Homo sapiens: one gene and its partner. The protein of the gene in region 1 interacts with the protein of each later gene in a pairwise test. Each region holds a gene or a part of one and is shown in the gene's direction. Other genes may lie near its edges.

Region 1 (3,160 bases):
TGATAGTTGTTATGTTTTGTATTTGGCTAATGTTCTCTGTGCTCCTTCCCTTGTGTCCTGCTTAGCAAAAGATACAGATATTGTGGATGAAGCCATCTATTACTTCAAGGCCAATGTCTTCTTCAAAAACTATGAAATTAAGGTAAATTACGGAGCTTTTAATATTTAACTTAGTTTTCTCATAGGGATAATACCAACCTTGCTATCCAGATTGCTGTGAGGAGAAAATAAAATGAAATCAGCATGTAATTTTTAAATTCGAGAGCAGTGCTTAATGTTAGCTTTTGTATAAATATTAGTTTCTTTTTTTTTCCTCCAAATTCTATACCAGGGGTTGGCAAACTCTAACCTGAGGGCCACATTTGGCCCACTGCCCCTTTTTATGAATAAACCTTTATTGGAACACAGCCACAACCATTTGTTTCTATATTATCTATAGTTACTTTCACACCAAAACAGCAGAATTGAGTAGTTGTGACAAAGACTGTATGGCCCACAAAACCTAAAAATACTGCCTGCCTTTTACAGAGAAAGTTTGCCAACCCCTTGCTAGAAGTATCTTTATTTATTCAACATTAGTTAAGCAGCACCTACTATGTGCCAGCCTTTTGTTTTGTTTTGAGACAGGGTCTTGCTCCGTCGCCCAGGCTAGAGTGCAGTGGCACAATCACAGCTCACTATACCGTCAACCTCCTGGGCTCAGACAGTCCTCCTGCCTCAGCCTCCCAGGTAGCTGGAACTACAGGCATGCACCACCACACCTGGCTAATTTTTTGTATTTTTAGTAGAGACGGGGTTTCACAATGTTAGGCAGGATGGTGTCTCGATCTCCTGACCTCATGATCCGCTCACCTCAGCCTCTCAGTGTGCTGGGATTACAGGCGTGAGCCACCGCTCCCGGCCCTAAAATGGAATTTCAGCCCCTCCTTGCCAAACTCTGAACTTCTGGAATCAAACAGGTTGTGAATTATTTATTTGTAGACTCTTGGTGTACAAATTGTAGTCTAAACATTCTGTGATGGTAATAGAATGTTTTCTATATCTCATGTGTGGGTTAAGTTTGTAACAGTTATAAATGTTACAATTCTCTGGGCACATTGCTTGAGTTCAGGAGTTCGAGACCAGCCTGGGCAACATGGCGAACCCCCGTCTCTACAAAAAATAGAAAAATTAGTGCATGGTGGCTCACGCCTGTAATCCCAACACTTGGGAGGCTGAGGCGGGTGGATCACATGATGCCAGGAGTTTGAGACCAGCCTGGCCAACAAAGCGAAACCCCATCTCTACCAAAAATACAAAAATTAGCCAGGTGTAGTAGTGCATGCCTGTAATCCCAGCTACTCGGGAGGCTGAAGCACAAGAATTGCTTGAACCCAGGAGGTGATGGTTGCAGTGAGCCGAGATCACACCACTGCACCCAGCCTGGGCGACAGAGCAAGACTGTCTCAAAAAAAAAACAAAAAACTCTGCCACATTTCATTTGTTCCCAGATACTATATTGTCTTAAAAATAGGGAAATGTGGCTGGGCGCAGTGCCTCTGCCCGTAATTTGGGAGGCCAAGGCGGGCGGATCACCTGAGGTCGGGAGCTTGAGACCAGCCTGACCAACATGGGGAAACCCCGTCTCTACTAAAAATACAAAATTAACTGGGCGTGGTGGTGCGTGCCTGTAATCCCAGCTACTTGGGAGGCTGAGGCAGGAGAATCACTTGAACCCAGGAGGCAGAGGTTGCGGTGAGCCAATATCACGCCATTGCACTCCAGCCTGGGCAGCAAAAGTGAAACACTCAAAAAAAAAAAAATATATAGGAAAATGGTGTGGTTTGGGGGTAATTTTTTTGTTGTTTTTTTGTTTTGAGACAGAGTCCCGCTCTGTCACCAGGCTGGAGTGCAATGGCGTGATCTCGGCTCAGTGCAACCCTCGACTCCCGGGTTCAAGTGGTTCTCCTGCCTCAGCCTCCCAAGTAGCTGGGATTACAGGCACGCGCCACCACGCCAAGCTAATTTTTGTATTTTTTGGTAGGGACAGGGTTTCACCACGTTGGCCAGGATGGTCTCGATCTCCTGAGCTCGTGATACACCCACCTTGGACTTCCAAAGTGTTGGGATTACAGGTGTGGGCCACCGCACCCGGCCTTTTTTTTTTTTTTTTTAATTCGAGACAGAGTCTTGCTCTGTTGCCCAGGCTGCAGTGCAGTGGTACAGTCTTGACTCATTACAACCTCTGCCTCCTGGCTTCAAGCGATTCTGTGGCCTTAGCCTCCCTAGCAGCTGGGATTACAGGCGCACGCCACCATGACTGGCTAATTTTTGTATTTTTAGTAGAGACGGTGTTTCGCCATGTTGCCCAGGCTGGTCTCAAACTCCTGGGCTCAAGCAATCCACCCACCTCAACCTCCCAAAGTGCTGGGATTACAGGCATAAGCCACTGCACCTGGCCTAAATTTGTGTAAAATTTGACCCAAAGTCCATACCACATTTGATCAACATTCATTTGTCTTCTCCACATTTTCTTTTTGGTTAGGTCAAGACATTGAGATTATGGAGTTCTTTGGGAGCAAGTCAAATGTGAAATAGTTGCTTCCTCCTTTAGAGTAATGACTATTTCTGTTCTCGGCAGAGACCCTGAAGGGAAGGGTTTTTAAAAATTAGCCAACCATATGGAGCAGTTCAGGCTTTCCAGGCAGCTTTGTTACTTCTTCCTATACAGTGAGGGGCTGTTGACACAGATCCTTGGGAACCCTGGGGCAAGGGGAGCCGAGAAAAACAAGAGAGAGCAGCCACTCAGCCGAGCGTGGTGGCTCATGCCTGTAATCCCAGCACTTTGGGAGGCTGAGGTGGACAGATCACTTGAGGTCAGGAGTTCGAGACCAACCTGGCCAACATGGTGAAACCCCGTCTCTACTAAAAATAGAAAAATTAGCCAGGCGTGGTGGCGGGCACCTGTAATCCCAGCTACTCGGGAGGCTGAGGCAGGAGAATTGCTTGAACCTGGGAGGTGGAGGTTGCAGTGAGCTGAGATTGTGCCACTGCACTCCAGCCTGGGCAACAGAGCAAGACTCCGTCTCAAAAAAAAAAAGCAGCTGCACATCTCAGAGTGGGGCTTGTGCCTTCCTCCCAGGGGCAGACGGAAAAGGAGACTGAGGAGACTGTGCATTTG
Region 2 (2,988 bases), on another chromosome or scaffold:
CTTAATGGACATCCCAAGGTGGCCCTGGCCCCACAGCCAACCATAGCCACCAACAATTTGTCATTATTTTGGCTCAGAAAGCAATGTCACAATGAAAAAAAACCCTTAGAGCTAACATGCCTGTATTAGAAGATGCCTCATTTCCAGGCCTTCCTTTTATGAGTCTATTTATGAACCATCTTTTGTGCTGTGTACATTCTGGGTTTCCAAGCAGGATCAAAAACACAACTGAACTGAGTCATCACCACAAGGTAAAATTTGCCTCATAGTATTTGAAGTTAACTGAAAACACATTTGACATGAAAAAAACAAAGACTGCAACAACCTAATCCTTCAGTTTCTGTTTAATGCACTCACTTGCCATTACTATATTTTAGACCTTACCCTTCATGGAAGGGGCCTGGCAGGCTTCGGAGAAGACAGGGCTGGGTTTACATTTCTGTCACACAATTTACTAACGATGTGATTTCTCTGAGCCTTGGTTTCTCCATCCGGTGATAAAAATATTTACCTTCAGAGGTTATAATGAGGATCAGCAGTAACGCGCGTAAAGCGCTTAGCATAGAACCTGGTGGACAGCAGGCTCTCGGATGTATTTGATAAAGCGTGGTCATACACTGTGAAGCATATAACCACGCCAGCATGTGCACATCATCATCGTAAAGTTTCCAATCCTCAAAGAAAAAAAAAAGACATTCCAACTTTGAACTGTAAGATATACTCACATGAAAGCTTGTTGTAGGTTCCTGGCACTCAATTTTAGGGTCTGCCCCCACTGCCAAATCCAGAAAGAATCAGGCTCTCAAGTTGAAGCTTAGGCCTAGGCAGATGACAGAACATTATGAGGAGGTGTCAGGCTGCTGTGGATCATGACTGTTAGACCAGGTGGCACCTAGCAAACAAAGGGCCAACGGAGGAGAGTAGATACTTGGATCAGAGACTATGAGTGGGATAGAATGAATGGATGGGGGTGCCGGGACTCGACCAGATGGCTAGGGATGGGGAGCAGGACATGACCCCACTGGAGATGGCAGGGTAGGCTCTGCTCTCAGCACCTTTGCACTGGCATATCTAAATAATTCAAGTCAGGGCTCAAACGCCTACCCTGCAGAACCATGCAGAGTGTAAACAAATGAAGATGGCTGCATGTACAGCGGAGGGGTGTGGGTAGGGGGCACTTGTGGCTAAGCAGAGAGCCCTGTACCCCTTCAGAGGGGCACCTGCCACCCAGCCTCAGCTAATGCTTGTCTTGTGAGAGTCAGTGCAAATGTGGGAGATCTGACTTTTCAGAAGTCTCCAATCTGGATTATAAAATCACTCGATTTTTAGGTCTTGGCAACAGATTGAAATTTCTTAAAATGCTGCAAAGGACAGACTAAAGCAACCCAATGGCCATCAGGTTGTAACCTGTGCCCTGAGTGGCCAGAGCAACCAAACAAAATGCCCGCTAGCTCAGCAGCAGCAATGCCACAGACTTCATACCCAGTGGACGGCAGGTGCTCAGCCCACCTGCCACATGCAGTTGTGTCTAGGCAAGGGACACTGCTTGGCATTTTAGTGCTGGACCTACTTGTATGTTTCTTACACTCTCTATGTAAGTGGTGTGGATAGACAGTCTGGCCAAAAAGCAAGGCATCACTCCTTGCTTCCTCTTGTCTATGTTCTTTGTTCTCATTGACTGGTTTCAGCCAAGTGTACACCATTCCCCCTACCTGGCTTCTCACAGCCGGTCATTTTCACTCTTTTTGAAAAGCGTTCCTTGTGGAGCTGTACTCGTGGGCTGTAATCAGCCCCTGGGGCCCTCTCCCATCCCATCACTACCCTGACTTGACCCTTTATAAAGAACTCCCCAGGCAACCTCAGTCACTCTTAAAATATCTCGGAGATAATCCAGTCCCTGGTCCTGCCCTGACAGCTGGGCAAACAGAGGCCCAGAGAAGACAAGTGAGGTGCCCAGGGTCACAGAGCTAATCAGAGGCAGCGCCATCAGGACACCTGCCTACCAGCGGGGATTCCTTCTGTCACCGAGGCCTCACAGAAGAGTCCTCTGCCCTTATTTTGAGCACCTGGTGACTTTGCTGTATAAGAGGTCACCGAATATCATGGAGGGCGAGTCATGCCAGCTGGTTATAGGATCTGAAAAAACTGAATTTGTCACTCTTCATCAGAAAAAGAAGTACTCACAAAATACTGTCACAGGAACCCCACTTGGGTTGCTTTAACTGCCCCCGATTCGGCATCCTCCGAGGTGAATTAGTGTGGTTTTAATTTAATGAAGTCTTCTAAGAAACTCCAGGGCAAATGCCACGAGGCGCTAAAGATCAGACTTTAGTATCACGCTCTCCTTTTGGCAGTCCATGGCCTGCTTCTGAAGGCATCTTAAAATATATTATGGATAAGGGAAGTATGAATAAATAAATGAAGCCTGCTTTCAAGCAGGAGGTTGATTCTCTGGTGCTTCTAATAAGCTTTAACCGACCAGATTTTCACTGTTTGGTTTTTGTTTTTGTTTTTTTGAGACGGAATCTCGCTCTGTCACCCAGGCTGGAGTGCAGTGGCGTGATCTCCACTCACTGCAACCTCCACCTCCCGGATTCAAGCGATTCTCCTCTTTCAGCCTCCCAGGTAGCTGGGAGGTGCCCACCACCACACCTGGTGAATTTTTGTATTTTTTAGTAGAGACAGGGTTTCACCATGTTGGCCAGTCTGGTCTCCAATTCCTGGCCTCAAGTGATCCACCCACCTCGGCTTCCCAAAGTGCTGGGATTAGAGGCATGAGCCACCACGCCCAGCCGATTTTCACTGTTGGAAGGGTCTCTTGCCCTATCTCCCTCCAGCCCCGGCAGTTCATAATACACCTTGCACCTTGTTTCTCAGAACTTCCACACACCTAGAACCTCTTGGGAAGAAGTAAGGGCTCTACCAGAATTTCTTTGCAAGTTACTAAGAAAGGCAGGTTCCCAGATAGTGCATGGGAGATGGGCAGAA

What was found.
Region 2: the proteins of ARPC3 (region 1) and DUSP29 interact in binary tests that used the Homo sapiens proteins (3 or more experiments, as listed by UniProt).

Annotation. Positions count from the first base shown.
Region 1 is NC_000012.12:110,437,294-110,440,453, reverse strand, and holds part of ARPC3 (actin-related protein 2/3 complex subunit 3), read left to right. Parts: intron 1-65; coding exon 66-142; intron 143-3,160. UniProt on the Homo sapiens protein: Component of the Arp2/3 complex, a multiprotein complex that mediates actin polymerization upon stimulation by nucleation-promoting factor (NPF).
Region 2 is NC_000010.11:75,039,704-75,042,691, reverse strand, and holds part of DUSP29 (dual specificity phosphatase 29), read left to right. Parts: intron 1-2,988. UniProt on the Homo sapiens protein: Dual specificity phosphatase able to dephosphorylate phosphotyrosine, phosphoserine and phosphothreonine residues within the same substrate, with a preference for phosphotyrosine as a substrate. Involved in the modulation of intracellular signaling cascades.